Linked DNA regions of Homo sapiens: region 2 is linked to region 1. The links come from fine-mapping of genetic effects on gene expression. Tissue or cell type: whole blood. Region 1 holds a variant in brackets; the other region holds the start of a gene. All regions are shown on one strand. Distances are from middle to middle.

Region 1 (8,081 bases):
AACATGTGAACAAGCGTCTCTGCTTTTCCTAGGCAGAGGACCCTGCGGCCTTCCGCAGCGTTTGTGTCCCTGGGTACTTGAGATTAGGGAGTGGTGATGACTCTTAATGAGAATGCTGCCTTCAAGCATCTGTTTAACAAAGCACGTCTTGCACCGCCCTTAATCCATTTAACCCTGAGTTGACACAGCACATGTTTCAGAGAGCACGGGGTTGGGGGTAAGGTTATAGATTAACAGCATCCCAAGGCAGAAGAATTTTTCTTAGTACAGAACAAAATGAAAAGTCTCCCATGTCTACTTCTTTTTACACAGACACGGCAACCATCCAATTTCTCAATCTTTTCCCCACCTTTCCCCCCTTTCTATTCCACAAAGCCGCCATTGTCATCCTGGCCCGTTCTCAATGAGCTGTTGGGCACACCTCCCAGATGGGGTGGTGGCCGGGCAGAGGGGCTCCTCACTTCCCTGTAGGGGCGGCCGGGCAGAGGCACCCCTCACCTCCCGGATGGGGCGGCTGGCCGGGCAGGGGGCTGACCCCCCCACCTCCCTCCCAGACGGGGCGGCTGGCCGGGCAGAGGGGCTCCTCACTTCCCCGTAGGGGCGGCCGGGCAGAGGCGCCCCTCACCTCCCGGACGGGGCGGCTGGCCGGGCGGGGGACTGACCCCCCAACCTCCCTCCCGGACGGGGCGGCTGGCCGGGCGGGGGGCTGACCCCCCCACCTCCCTCCCGGACGGGGCGGCTGGCCAGGCAGAGGGGCTCCTCACTTCCCAGTAGGGGCGGCCAGGCAGAGGCGCCCCTCACCTCCCGGACTGGGCGGCTGGCCGGGCGGGGGGCTGACCCCCCCCCAAATTCTTTCTTTCTTTATTTATTTTTGGAGATGGAGTCTCGCTCTTTCGCCCAGGCTGGAGTGCAGTGGCGCGATCTCAGCTCACTGAAAGCTCCGCCTCCCGGGTTCACGCCATTCTGCCTCAGCCTCCCGAGTAGCTGGGACTACAGGCGCCCACCACCACGCCGGCTAATTTTTTTGTATTTTTAGTAGAGACGAGGTTTCACCGTGTTAGCCAGGATGGTCTCCATCTCCTGCCCTCGTGATCCACCCGCCTCGGCCTCCCAAAGTGCTGGGATTACAGGCGTGAGCCACCACTCCCAGCCTTGAAGTTCTTAATGTTTGAACAAAGGGCCCACATTTTCATTTTGCTCTGGGCACTATAATTTATGTTGCAGGACACAGGACGAGCTACATAAGTTGTATAGTTTTTAACTGTTTTTAGGGGACATACAAGTAAAAGTTTTTAACTGCTTTTAGGGGACATACAAGTAAAAGTTTTTTTTTTTTTGAGACGGAGTCTTGCTCTGTCCCCCAGGCTAGAGTGCAGTGGCACAATCTCGGCTCACTGCAACCTCCACCTCCCGGGTTCAAGTGAGTCTCCTGCCTCAGCCTCCCGAGTAGCTGGGATTGCAAGCGTGTGCCACCACACCCGGCTAATTTTTGTATGTTTAGTAGAGACAGAGTTTCACCATGTTGGCCAGGCTGGTCTTGAACTCCTGATCTCAAGTGATCCACCCACCTTTGTGGGCAGCAAGCCACCCAGGTGCCAAGGCAAGAGACCAAGGACACGAGCTGTTCCAGTATAATAAAATATATAAAACAATAAGAGTTATACTAGATCTAGATCATAGACATGATTATATATGAATATCATTAATCATTAGTTTGTAGCAATTACTCTATATTCCAGTATTATAATAATCCTTGCTGTACAATCATAACCTAGGAAAAACCGAGCCATACAGAGATAGGAGCTGAAGGGATATAGTGAGAAGTGACCAGAAGACAAGAGTGGGAGACTTCTGTTATGCCTGGACAGGGCCACCAGAGGGCTCCTTGGTCTCCATAACGCCAGCATCTGGGAAGACGCCCGTTGCCAAGCAGACCGTGGTCTAGCAGTAGTGTCAGTGCCAAGGAAAACACCCGCTACTTAGCAGACCGGGAAAGGGAGTCTCCCTTTCTCCGGGGGAGTTTAGAGAAGACTCTACTCCTCCACCTCTTGTGGAGGGCCTGACATCAGTCAGGCCAGCCCACGGTTATCCGGAGGCCTAACCGTCTCCCTGTGATGCTGTGCTTCAGTGGTCACGCTCCTAGTCCGCCTTCATGTTCCATCCTGTGCACCTGGCTCTGCCTTTTAGATAACAGTAGCAAAATTAGTGAAAGTACTAAAAGTCTCTGATATGCAGAAATAATGGCGTAAGCTGTCCTCTCTCTCTCTCTCCCCCCGCCTTGGCTGTCAAACAGGGAGGGGGCCCCTGTCCAGTGGACACGTGACTCACGAGACCTTATCAATCATTGGAGATGACTCACACTCTTTACCCTGCCCTTTTTGCTTTGTATCCAATAAATAACAGTGCAGCCAGGCATTCGGGGCCACTACTGGTCTCTGTGTCTTGGTGGTAGTGGTCCCCTGGGCCCAGCTGTCTTTTATCTCTTTGTCTTGTGTCTTTATTTCTACAATCTCTCGTCTCTGCACACGGGGAGAAAAACCCACTGACCCTGTGGGGCTGGACCCTACACACCTTGGCCTTCCAAAGTGCTGGGATTACAGGTATGAACCACCACGCCACTGCAAGTAAAAGTTTTGAAAGCCACTAAGCGCTTGGGCTTTTGGAACCCCAAATCCAGGATGGTTTGCAAGGCCTCCTCCTTTCCACCCTGTGACTTAGTCTCCCCTCCCAAGGCAACAGGCATGGAATCCCTAGTTGCTCGCGTGGAGAGGAAGGAAGGGGAAATTGCAAGGGCAATGTAAACTAGATTACCATTTCAGCATTGTTTCCCATCGGCACAGGTAATGTTGGGTGCTAATGAGCCTCACAGGTGTGTGCTTCAGCCAGCCCCAGGGAAGTCACTGAGCACCATCTGTCCAATCCCCCTCATCACAGAGGAAAGCAGATCCAAGCCCCTTCCTCTCCTTGAGTTCTGGAGTTGGACCTCAGCCAGACAGAGGGATTTCTTAGCACTTTTTGAGGGAGGAAACCAACTCTGATCCCCTCTTCCTCAGTCCTCCTCCTTCTAACCTTGAGAATGGGCTTGCACCTTTGGGCAAAAGGAGTTTAGAGGAGAGGAAATATGGTTGCAGAGGGTGAGAGATGGGGTCGGGTATGAGGGATCTTGAATCCCAGGGTGAGATTGGACCTTCCTCTAGGGTGATGGAGCTGGGGCACAGAGGAAGAAGGAAATAGGGAAATCCAGGTAAGGCCCTCTGGGGAGGTGAAGCCTGCTGGACTTTGCCTTGATCTTTTCCAGGCCTAAATGTTATAGTAACTATTATTAAAAGTTTTAATGGTATATTTTTAACAGATACTCTTTTTCTACGAATAGTAAATTGCTACTAGATTGCATTATTAAAGTAAATGGTAATTACTCCTGATTATTACTTAACTGGGCAAGAACAATTAAACCTACACTAAAGGCCCTATGAGGGAACACCACCAGGGGAAGGAATAAAACATCACAGACAGTGTTGAAGAACCTGAATTTGCCTGGGGTGTTTAGGAAACAAACCTCCCAAATAAGGGAGGAGAGACTTCCTGTTGTTCACCACTCCGGCTTCATCTGACCTCTAAGTCTTGTTGATTCTGCTTCCAAAATATTTACTCCGGTTAGGATGAATCTCTGTTCATAAACCCACGTGTGCAAGAAATATAAAGTTTTCTATAACTCCACCTAATTTCCACT[T/G]GGCACTCTGCTGGAGTGACAGAAATTTAATCTCAGCTAATTTAGGGTTCCCTGAGGCTGTGCATAAGGGCTCAGGGCCTTATGAGTGTGTGTGTTGGGGGAATCTAGTTCTTAGTGTCATCTGTCCCCACAGGCATTCATGGAGAGGTCATTGGTCCCCACTGGTTGGTGCTGAGACCTGGCTCGTTCTTCCCCACAGCTGGCTTTCCTCCTCCAGCCATTCTTGCCTGTGGGAATCTGGGTGAGGCTATCTAAGGTCTTCTCCTAGACACACCTCATTGGCGTTCCATGCTGACTGTTCCTGCTTCCTGGGATAAGTTCCCTCTGCTCTTGGATTTTGTGCCCCCTCTCTGGGCCCCTCAGATGTTGTTGTCACTTACCTCCATTCTCTTCTTCACTTCCTTCCTTCCTTTTCTCTAGCCTCCAGAAACCTCTGTTTTAGGGTCTCTGGAAGACCCTCAAGAGATGGCCCTGTCTCCCTGACCAGGGTTCTAAACACACTGGGAAATGAAGCAAAGGAAAGGCAGATGGAGTCACAATATCAGCCTTATTACCAACTAAGTCATGCCCCAGGTCAGAGTATGTTGCTTGGTGTGGGCTGATGACTGAGCCCCCAAGTTAGGCAGACACCCCCCGCAGCCCCTGAGTTGTGGCAGTACTGGGCTGGGTAGGCCTCCCTCTCAGAATCCCTGTAGGGGCAGTGGGTGTGGACCCATTGTAGGCAGGGAGATCCCAAGAGGAAGAAGGGCAGAACAGAGCAGATCATGCACCCGATTCTCCAGACGCACTGATCAGAGGACTCATTCTCTCCCCATGATGCAGAAGTAGCAGGCCTGTGGGGCCCTACCACCTGGAAAGAGTGAGGAATAGGCATCTCTCCTAATCCTTCCTCCCTCTCCTCTTGCTCTTGATGTTTCTTGGAACTTTTCAGCTATGTCTGAGACTTCTTTTCTCTAAGTCCTTTTGAAACCAAATCCAGAAATATTTTTAAAGATATTTTTATTACAGACCTTTAAAACATAGACAAGTATAGACAGAATTCCGTAATAAATCCCCATGTCCTCATGCAACCATCAGTCAGCTTCAGCAGCTATCAACTCATGGCCACTTTTTCTTTTTTTTTTTTGAGACGGAGTCTCACTCTGTTGCCCAGGCTGGAGTGCAATGGCACGATCTCAGCTCACTGCAAGCTCTGCCTCCCGGGTTCACACTATTCTCCTGCCTCAGCCTCCCGAGTAGCTGGGACTACAGGCACGTGCCACCATGCCCGGCTAATTTTTTGTATTTTCAGTAGACGGGGTTTCACTGTGTTACCAGGCTGGTCTCGATCTCCTGACCTCGTGATCCACCTGCCTCGGCCTCCCAAAGTGCTGGGATTACAGGCGTGAGCCATCGTGCCTGGCTGGCCATTTTTTAAAGAGAAGAGATCTTGCTCTGTCACCCAGGATGGACTCATATTCCTGGGTCCAAGCAATCCTCACTTCCCAGGCTCCCACGTAGCTGGGACTACAGGGATGCACCATCTTATCTCGCACATGGCCTATTTTTTTTTTTTTTTTTTGAGACAAAGTCTCGCTCTGTCTCCCAGGCTGGAGTGCAATGACATGATCTCAGCTCACTGAAACCTCTGCCTCCCAGGTTCAAGTGATTCTCCTGCCTCATCCTCCCGAGTAGCTGGGAATATAGGCACCTGCCATCATGGTCAGCTAATTTTTGTATTTTTAGTAGAGACAGGGTTTCACCATGTTGGCCAGGCTGGTCTTGAACTCCTGACCTCAGGTGATCCATCCTCCTCGGCCTCCCAAAGTGCTGGGATTATAGGTGTGAGCCACCGCGCCTGGCACACATGGCCTGTTTGATTCATCTGTACCTCTACCTTCTCTCCCCACGCCTGTGTTGAAACAAATCCAGTGCATCATAACCAGAACTCTTGTTTCTGTTTTCTGCACCGTCATGTCCCGCCCCTGAGGTGCAATGAGCACAGAATGGACTAGCTATTTGAGAGCGGGGGTGGGAGGGCAGATGTGAATTACTAGAGAAAAAGAAAAACAAATGGCAACATTAGACAAACGTTATCCTGTTGTTTCCATTTTCCTCACCACTGTTCAAGTTCAGGACTCATCATTTACTTCTGGCAGCAGCTTGGTAACTAATCTCCTTGCTTCTTCTCCCTTCTAGATTACTGGTGTTTCCTCAAGTGACCACTTGTGTCATAAAAACTTGGAAAATGGACTGACATGCAGATCCGTGGGCCACTCTCCAGCCCCACTGAATCAGACACTTTGAGGTGGATTTCAGGTATTTTTTTTTTTTTTTTTTACAAACCTCCAGGTGATTCTCAAACACAGTACTGTGGAGAACCACTGTCCAAACCAGTCTTGATGCTGCTCCCAGTGCTATCTTGAAACACTAAGTCTGGCCCTGTCACCCCTGCTTACAACAACTCAGGAGGCCCCCTGCCTGAAGAATAAGTGCCAAGTATTTTTTTTTTCTTTCTTTCTTTCTTTTTTTTTTTTTTTGAGTCGGAGTCTCGCTCTGTCGCCCAGGCTGGAGTGCAGTGGCGAGATCTTGGCTCACCGCAACCTCCGCCTCCTGGGTTCAAGCAATTCTTCTGCCTCAGCCTCCTGAGTAGCTGGGACTACAGGCATGCGCCGCCATACCCGGCTAATTTTTGTATTTGTAATAGAGACGGAGTTTTGCCATGTTTGCCAGGCTGGTCTCAAACTCCTGACCTCAAGTGATCCGCCTGCCTCTGGCCTTCCAAAGTGCTGGGATTACAGGGGTGAGCCACCACGCTCAGCCCAGGCCTGGTATTTCCTTCTGGACTTTGCCTGACAGCAGCATCTTTCCCCATCACTCTCCACCTTGAACCCTGGGTTTTAGCCACATCTTACAACTTTGATGTGCTCAACTCTCTGGATTCTCTCCCTTATGCCTCCCAGGGCTGATAAACTTGTGCTGATCCTTCAAGGACCAGGTCAAGGGTGCCTTCTTCTTTGAAGCCATCTGTGGACTCACTCTGCTGTACATTGTAGTGGAAAGGCTTGGGAGTCAGACAGAGTTAAGTTAAAAGCTCTGCCACTTGCTAGCTGCGTGACTCCAGGAAAGTCCTCAGTTTCTCTGGGTCTCAGTCTCACCATCTAGAGAACAGGGATAAAAGTAGTGTCTTGGCTGGGTGTGGTGGCTCACGCCTATAATCCCAGCACTTCAGGAGGTCGAGGTGAATGGATCACTTGAGGCCAGGAGCTCGAGACCAGCCTTGCCAACATGGTAAAACCCTGTCTCTACTAAAAATGCAAAAGTTAGCTGGGTGTGGTGGTGTGCACCTGTAATCCCAGCTACCTGGGAGGCTGAGGCAGGAGAATGGCTTGAACCTGGGAGGTGGAGAGTGCAGTGAGCCAAGATTACTTCACTGCACTCCTGCCTGGGCAACAGAGTGAGACACCATCTGAAAAACAAACAAACAAAAAGAGTGTCTTATGGCATTGTGAGATATAAATGGAGACGTTAGCACAGTGCCTGGCACATACAGTAGGGTGTCCAAAAACAAGAGCACCCTAACAAGAGCCTGGCACAGACAGTTAAAGTCCAGGGCATCTTGAAATGTGGTATGTGGGCAGGCACAGTGGCTCATGCCTGTAATCCCAGCTACTCAGGAGGCTGAGGCAGGAGAATGACTTGAATCTGGGAGGTGGAGGTTACAGTGAGCCGAGATCCCACCACTGCACTCCAGCCTGGGCAACAGAGTGAGACTCCCTCTCAAAAAATAGAAATGCAGTGTGTGGTTCTCAGTGCCTCCAATAACTAATGCAGCCTGCCCGTCAGAAGTCAGCTAACAAGGCTGTGTGCAGTGGCTCATGCTGTAATCCCAGCATTTTGGGAAGCTGAGGCAGAAGAATTGCTTGAACCCAGGAGGTGGAGGTTGCAGTGAGCTGAAATCGTGCCATTGCACTCCAGCCTGGGCGACAAGAGCAAGACTTCATCAAAAAAAAAAAAAAAAAAAAAAAAAAAGAAAGAAAGAAAAAAGGTCAGCTAACAAAATGACTTATTACGGAAAGATAGCGAAGTCGTCACTGCTCTGTTGGACAATAACAGCCTTATCTCAGGGCCCCCTGCCTCCAGACATTTATACCTTCCAGCCCTGCCATGCACCGCCCCAGAGTGAATTTTCTAATAGATGTCATAATGTAACTGAGGGTTTCAGTAGTTTCCGTTCTGAAATGGCTCTCCACATCCATGCTTCTGATGCATAGCCTTTTCTGAGCGCCTGCTGAAATAGGCAAACCAAATAGGAACAATGAGTCCTCATCACTGGACATTAAGAAGGGTCTCACCTACACATCTGAAAATG
Region 2 (8,087 bases), 67 kb before region 1:
CAGGCTGAGGCGCTCCCCGCAGGCCCGGATCTTGTTCTGAGCTTCGATGTGTGTGAGGCTACCCGCATTCTCGCCATCGATGCTCAGCACCCAGTCACCCACGGCCACTCCGGCCTGCGCCGCTTTGCCCCCAGGAGTGAGCTGTGGAGAGAGAAGCAAAGTGACCGAGGCCCTGGACCCTGCAGACCCAAGCCAGGCTGACGGTGGTAACACTGCCCCACCCAAAGCTGTCCCACTTCCAGAACCCAGAGAGCTCTTCATTCAACATAGTTCTAGGCAGCTGCTGGACACTAAAGCAACCCAGGAGGTGGTGGCGCTCACCTGAGCTTCACAATTTCCCAGTCACACTGCTTATTTATTCACTGCCAGACCCTCTCCCTCAGGTGGTGCTCACCTGAGCTTCCCCAGTCACGATGCTTATCTATTCACCGCCACCACCCTCCCCCACAGTCCAGAAATTGCTATGATGTCCACAAACAGCCACGCTCAGGCTAAAGCCCAAGTGTTTCAGGAGGACCATTGCCTTTTGAGGCTCCTGCTGGCCTCCTGCCCAGGCCACTCCACCTACCAGATATGCCCTCTGGCCCATGCAGGGGGCAGCTTCCTCCCCGAAACCACCGGGGGCTCTTATGGACCTCTCACCCCCCAGCACCCTGTCGGGGGCCATCTATAGGGGTCTGCTGGGACCCTTTGAGAGCCAGGAACAGGCCCTGTTATCTCCCGGTTCCCTGTGAACACTGCCTGAATGGGACCTAAGTTGACAGCTGGGACTTCGTAGGCCATACATGGCTGTCACTCCCAAGCCCTCGACTGCCAATTTCCCCTGACCCCAATCCTTCAGGCTCTTGAGCTGGGAGTCCCTGGTTCCTGTGGCAATGAGTAGAGACAGTAGGCTGGGAGAAATGGCTGCCACCAGCATGAGCTGAGACCATCAGGAATGACTTTGAGGAAGCGGTGGGCCTCGGTAAAGGAGAATGGCGTGTGCTGCCTAGCGGGTGAGAGTTCACTTACGATGGCTTTGAATGCCAGGGGAAGGGACCAGGACTTGGCTTTGAAGGTAGAGGGGCTACTGGCAGTTTTAATGTCTGGGATTGGGTATCTCCCAGGCCCTGAGAGGGTGACCCTGATAAACCCCTTCCAGGCCTCTAGCCCAGCCCCAGCAACACAGGCAGGGCAGCTTGACTGGGTCCAAGCCTAAGGGACCACCCAGCCATCTGGCAAGAGGCCTGGCACTGCATCAAGTAGGCTTTTGTGAGGCAGTGCTGGAAGACAATTTCACTGGGTGGGGGGGATCTGGGGGGGTCCAGGCTGCCAGTGGCCCCAGGAGGCTCCTCAGGTGGGTCAGTGCACAGACTGAGCTGAGGCAGGGAGAGGGGAGGCAAGAGGTTTCAGAGAGATGTCAGAGGGCAGGGCAGCCAGGCACAGAGCTTGACAGCACTGGGAAAAGAAAGGCGAGCTGGGCTCAACATGACCTCTTGCTTGCGTAGGAGGTCAGAAGGCTAAGAGAGCTCGGCGGCCCCTTCCTCACTCGCTAGATAAGAAGACTTGCTTCAGTTTATTGAGCACCAACTATGCTACATATTGACACTGAATCTTCCAACAACCTTGTGGAGTAATCTGGGATTTTACCCATTTTGCACTTGCAAATGTACACAGAGAGGTTAAACAACTTGCCTCAAGTCACCCAGCTAGTAAGAGGCAGAGCCAGGAAGTGTCTCTGACCCTAAGGCTCCACCACTGTGGGCCACCTCTGCTGAGCATGGGGGCCCAACTGAGGGGTCAGCCCACCTGGAGACACCCTGAGCCACTCCCTCACCTTTAGTTCAATCCAACTAAATCAACCCCTTATACTGTGTATGGGGAAGTGACACCCCAGAGGGGAAGTGACTTACTCAAGGTCATGGTGAGTCAGTAGAAGGGAAACCTGGCCCAGCCACTCCCTGCCCACAGGGCTGGCTCCTGGGAGCTGTGGGCTGAGCCCGAGGTGGGGGTCTTGGGGTGCAGCTAGCTGGCTCCTGGAGAGGGGGTGGGGGGCGGGGACGGCTTCCCTTCCCAGAGTGAGGAGGGCAGGAAGCACAGAGGATGAGGGGTGTTCAGAGCGTGGGGAGGGCAGCAGGAGAGCAGAAGACAGCGCTGGGCGGGTGGCTGGAGAGAGGCAGGGAGGGGCTCAAGCCAGGGGCAGGGTAAGGCCAGAGGAACCAAGGAGGGAAAAAGCCAGGGGGCTGGACCCTGCATGAGGTGGGGGTGAGTCAGCCTGAGCAGCCCAGCCCCCCAGTCCCAGACGTTACCTCATCTCCCAGGCCTGGGCCCACAGCCAGCCCTTGCCCCTCCCACCTCCCTCCATTCTGGGGTCAGGGGAGGGGGAGGGGGCTGGCCTAACTCAGAAAAGCCCACCTCACCCACCCATGTGGGCCCAGGTCCAACTCCAGGGCTGGGATCAGCTAGTGGCCCCGCCCACATGCCAGGGATGCTGACCAGGGAGCTGGAGCCCGGAGTGCCCCCAACAGGCCATATCTGAAAGTCATCTCCATCAGGGAAGAAACTGAGGTTCAGGCTCCCCAGACACACTGGGCCAGCACTTTCCCAGGGAGCAGGACGTCAGGTAGGTTTCAGGGCTGTGTGAGGGCTATGTAGTGGGACGTGTGTCATAGGGCAACCACTGCCTCACTACCCTGCTGGCGGGGCAGGTTCCAGGAGAATGCCATCAAAGGACCCCTGAGAAGAGCACTGCTGGCCTGCCCACCCTAACCCCCACGCCCAGCTCCTACAGACAGACTCCAGCTTGAGCCCCTCCTCAGGCCACGACCCTCTGGGCCCCTCCAGGCTGGGCTTGCCTTGGGCTTCCTGACAACAGCTGCCTGCCCACCCGGCGCCTGGGTGGGTCTCTTGGGGCAGGCGGATATAGGGGCAGGAAGTCCCCACCCCCTCCTGACCCCCAGGCCAGTCAGAGATGCCAGCCGACAGGCTGGCCTCACCCACTCTGGGCAGGCAATTTGTTGTGTCTCACAACTGGACCATATAGCTGGAGCTGCAGCCTGGTGACCAGCTGAGAGGCCCACCAGTGGGGTTCAGGGGGCCAGGCCTAGGCCAGCCCTTTTCAGCTCTGCAGACCGCAGCCACTGTTGGCCATCCCAGCGTGGGGCTGCATTCTTGGGCTTATAAGGCAATCCCCCTGCTACAGGGAGGAGCCAGCCTCCAGCTCCACCCACACCAGGGCAGGCTCTTGGAAGCTGAAGTTAAGCCCCTAGAATGGAGCCCTGTCCTACACTTCTGCTTGGGGTCAAAGGCCACCACATCCTGAATGGGAACAGTGGATGTGGGTCCTTACATAGGCTGGGGAGAGACCCCTTCTACCCACAAAAAATGTACGCCATGCTGTGCCTCAATTCCAATCCCTGCTTCACCATGGACTCGATGAGCGAGCCCCGCCACCTCTCCATGAGTTCTTCTCTCATCTGGAAAAACGGGATGAGGATTGCTATTCCCTGGGCGGCAGTGAGGCTGAAGTGAAATCCTATAGTCACAGTGTCCTGCCTGGGGCCTGGCTCCAAGCATTGCCACCTCAAGTTTAGATACCTCCTGAAATGTTAGGCTCCCATCCTGCACAATGAGCCTCCCTCCAGCCCTCAGAGGTGGCCACAGGAGCTTGGGAGAACAGCATCGGGTACAGTGCAGGGCTGGAGAAGCCTGGGTGCTCCCTCCCAGTATCCACCTCATTGGGAGTCCTTGTGGCAGGCAGGTACCACTACATCTCCGGACCTAGACATCTCCTGGCCTGCTGGCCCCTGACCAGCTCCTGTTAGGACTCCCCCCATCACCCTCTGGAGACCTAAGCACCGAAAGACCGCTGGGGGAGCCCCCTCCCCAAACCTAGGCTCACCCGGGAAATGGAGAGGGGCACATTGAAGTCCTTGCCCCCTTGCAGCCGGAAGCCCCAAGGTGCTGGCCCCTCCAGCACTACTTTGAAGGAATCCATGATGCCGGCTCCTGAGAGGAGAGAAGAGAAGGTGAGTGGCCAGCATGGTGGGCGGGCAGGCAGGCAGGCCGGGCCAGCTCAGGATACCAGCCTTGGACAGGGGCCAGGCAGGCACGGGCAGCCCCTGAGCACGCCCAAGCCATAGGAGGCAGGTATTTTGTCAGGCTGGCCTGGGCTGCTGGCTGGCGGACCTCACTTTGGAAAGACAGGAGCAGCCCCCCTCCCCTTGGGACTGGAACGGTGAGGGGTGCCTGAATCCAGGCTTGAGGTTCTTTGCAACCAGGGGTGGGCCGAGGGACTAAACTGGCGCGGCCTCCCCCCAAGCCAGCCTGGAGCCTCGGGCGGCCGGGTGAGTCAGGGGCCGGCTCTCCTCTCCCCCGCCCCCAGGTCCCGGCAGGCAGGCCGCGGCTGGAGCCTGCTCGGACTATATAAGGCGTGTAAGCTGACACTGTGCGGAGAGCCAGCGGAGGGAGCACACGGGGGCTTGGGACGCGAGGGGGGGGGGAGGGGAGGGGAGGGGAGGGGAGGGGAGGGAGGCGGCTGCAGCGGATCCTCCTAGCCATTCCGGGACCAGTCGAGGCTGCTGGGAGCCAGGGCGGGACCCCTGGGTGCTGAAGAAGGGGAAGGCGGGAGTGGGGTGCGGCCCCTGTGGAGACAGATGGGGGCTGGGACCCTCAAGCATAGCTTGGAGGGGGATCCTTCCCCGAGCCCAGTGGGGGGTGGTGCCTCCCACACAGAACTGCTCCCACACCGACGTGACTCAGTTTCCCCTTAGTCCCCCGCCCGGGCCCCATGCATTAGACTGGCCCCGGCCGCAGGAAGCGGCGCAGGCGCCAATCGGCCCCGCCGCAGCCGGCTTAGCGGCAGGAAGGCGGGGGCGGGGGCGGAGGCAGGGGCCAGGGCCAGCGGGAGGAAGCACAGCCTGGACCACGACCCCCAGTGCCCTTTGTGGTCCTCAGCAGGCCCCGGGCGCCCGCCTGGTGCAGCCCAAGACGCCCCGCGCGGTCGTCGATACCTGCTTGGCCCGGCCAGGGCGCTGCTCTGCGTCGGGCTCCAGGGAGCCTCGTTGGGATCGGCCGCCAGTGTTCTGACCCCGCCCCCACAGCCACCCTCCACTTTGAGCGCGCGGACGGGGGCGGGGCACCAGGCCACGCCCTCGTCGCGACCACGCCCACTAGACTTTCTCCGCTGGTGGAAAGCCCCACCCAGCTCTTCCGTCCTGCCCAATCACCAAGTCCCGTCGGGCTTAGAGCTGAGAGGCCTCGCCGACCCGGGCCCTGCAACGGGGCGGAGTCGGGAGGGGGCCGGGGCTGCGGGTCGCCTCCTTAGGGAAGCGCTGCCTCGCCCAGTCCCTCGCACCGCCCGCTGGCGGAGGGAGAGGAAAGCGGACCTTCAAACCAGACCGACCTGGGACATAGTAGTCTCTGAACCTTAGTTTGCTACTCCGAAAAATGGGACGATCATACTCGCCTCGCAGGGCTGCCGCGAGTGTCGGTATCGTAGGCGCAACCCTCGGGGACTGCAGAATCTGTAAATCAGAGGGGCTGGGGGAGACAAGTTGAGGGGGACAGGGGCGTTTAAAGCTAGAGTTGCGCAACGCTCTGCCGAAGGCAGGAAAACAGGGCAGGAGCGGACGCCGGATGTCCCTGCAACCCCGAGCCGACCCGCGCACCGTCGGAAGCGCCGCGTCCCGCTCCACCTTGGCCAGAGCGGACTGCGCCGCCTGGGAGGCGTCCTCAGAGTCCCGGCCCCGCGTTCAGCCCAGGCACTAGGGCCGGCGGCACGGACACTGAGCACATGCGGGTGTCGGGGTGAGGGAAGGGGCGTCCACCCTCCACTCGCTTGGTGGTCCCGGCCCATCACCTCCTCCTAGGACAGAGTCGCTGCAGTTCTCCCCTCTCCATCCACAGTCATCACACCCACCCTGTTCTGCACAAACCGCCGTGAGAGTTCTCGTCGTTAAAGACCTTCTCTTGACCCCACATCCCTCTCCAGCTACTACCCTTTAATTCTCCTCTCGAGAGTAAAATTCCTCCAGGGAGTTGTCTGTTTATCGCGTCTCCACTTGCTTTCCTTCAGTTATCTCTTGAAGCCATGCCAGGCGGGCTCTTGTCCGCACCCGTCCCCTGAGATCTCTCTTCTCAAGGTCCCCTGTGGCCTGGAGGCCATGGGGCCATGGAATCCGTGGTGGTTAAGTTTCATCCTGCCCTGCCTAGGGGCAGCACTGGTCCAGGTTGATCCTTTTCCGCGAAACACCCTTTTTCCCTGGCTTCACAGCTTCCCCCTGCCCCACTGGCCCCTCCTTCCCATCCTCCTCTGCCTCTGGCCTTGGCCATCTGATGTCGCCTCTCTTTATGCTCACCCCCTGAGACCCCGTACTGTCCTGTGGCTTTCAACACCACCTATATGCAAAGGCATCCCATGTTTCATGGCCAGCCTGACCTCTCCCCAGGAACTCTAACTCCATTATCCAAAACCCTGCCTAGATGTTTACTAGATCAGGGGTCCCCAACTCCCCGTTTGTGGCCTGTTAGGAACTGGGCTGCACAGCAGAAGGTGAGCAGCGGCAAGCCAGAGAAGCTGAGTGCAGCGGCAGCATTAGACTCCCATAGGAGCGTGAACCCTATTGTGAACTGTGCATGCGAGGGATCTAGGTTGCTCATTCCTTATGAGAATCTAATGATAAATGGGCCGGGTGCAGTGGTTCACGCCTGTAACCCCAGCACTTTGGGAGGTTGAGGCGGGGGAGGATCACTTGAGGTCAGGAGTTCGAGACCATCCTGGCCAATATGGTGAAACCCCGTCTCTACTAAAAATACAAAAATTAGCTGGGCGTGGTGGCGCATATGCCTATAATCCCAGCTACTTGAGAGGCTGAGGCAGGAGAATGACTTGAACCTGGGCAGCAGAGGTTGTAGTGAGCCAAGATGGCTCCACTGCACTCCAGTGTGGGTGACAGAGCGAGACTCTATCTCAAAAAAAAAAAAAAAAAAAGAGTCTAATGATAAATGTACTGCACTCGAACCACCCTGAAACCATCCCCACCCCACCCCCAGTCTGTGGAAAAATTGTCTTCCATGAAAGCGGTCCCTTCTGCCAAAAAGGTTGGGGAACCACTGTACTAGGTATCTCAGACCATCATGGCCCAATTCAAACTTGTGCCTTTCCCACCTTCCTAACTCCTTCCTCACTTCAAGAAGTGCCACCAACATTTATCCAACTGGTTCAGCAGAAACGATGAAGTTATCCTTTCTCTTCTGTCCTCCCCCAGATTCTGCAAATTCCACCTTCAACATGTTCACATCTAACCGCTGCTGCCACCATTGTCCCAGCCACTGCCATTTTGTGCCTGCGCCCCTGTAACGGTCTCCTAACGGGCATCCCTGCTTTCACCCTTGCCCCTTCCAGAGTCTTCACGAAGCAGCCAAAGTGATATTTTTAAAGCCAGAATCACAGCACCATGTCACTCTCAGCTTTTAGCATTCCAGTGGGCTCATATTGCACTCAAAATAAAACTGAAGTCCTTAAGACCTACAGAATATGAATAAACTGGGTCTGACTCCTACCACTCGCTCCCTCCACTCCAGCCACCCTGACCTCCTCACTCACATTTCCTCCAGCAGGCCAAGCATATTTCTGCCTCAGGGCCTCTCCACTTGCCAGTTCCCCTGCTTGAAACACTTTTCTTTTTTTTTCTTTTTTCTTTTCTTTTTTTTTTTTGAGACGGAGTCTCGCTCTGTCATCCAGGCTGGAGTGCAGTGGTGTGATCTCGGCTTGCTGCAACCTCTGCCTCCCACGTTCAAGTGATTCTCCTGCCTCAACCTCCCGAGTAGCTGGGACTACAGGCATGAACCACCATGCCCGGATAATTTTTATATGTTTAGTAGAGATGGGGTTTCTCCATGTTGGTCAGGCTGCTCTCAAACTCCTGACCTCCAGCGATCCACCTGCCTTGGCCTCCCAAAGTGCTGGGATTACAGGCGTGAGCCACCATGCCCGGTGCCCGGCCCTTGAAACACTTCTCCAGATATCTCAGCAACAGGTTTCCAACTTTATTTAGGTCTCTGCTCAGATGTGGCCTCCTCCCAGGGCCTTTCCTGATCACAGCTGA

Evidence for each region. PIP is the estimated chance that this variant, and not a neighbour inherited with it, causes the effect.
Region 2: PDLIM7 starts here. The variant in region 1 is fine-mapped to the expression of PDLIM7 in whole blood (TOPMed, PIP above 0.99).

What each region holds. Positions count from the first base shown.
Region 1 is chr5:177,559,566-177,567,646 of GRCh38, forward strand. FAM193B-DT (FAM193B divergent transcript) reads left to right here. Exons shown (of 3, transcript XR_941274.3): 2 at 5,909-6,028. Among named protein-coding and RNA genes, the nearest start is that of FAM193B-DT, 9.0 kb to the left of the region's middle. RefSeq lists a cis regulatory region at 1,776-1,944. The variant T/G (reference allele first, on the strand shown) is at 3,731.
Region 2 is chr5:177,492,537-177,500,623 of GRCh38, forward strand. PDLIM7 (PDZ and LIM domain 7) reads right to left here and starts at 5,068. Exons shown (of 13, transcript NM_005451.5): 1 at 4,992-5,068; 2 at 3,881-3,987; 3 at 1-141. The coding sequence starts at 3,976. RefSeq lists enhancers at 1-383, 3,720-4,461, 5,674-5,723, 5,942-6,681 and silencers at 2,176-2,325, 2,272-2,566, 4,264-4,343, 4,754-5,463.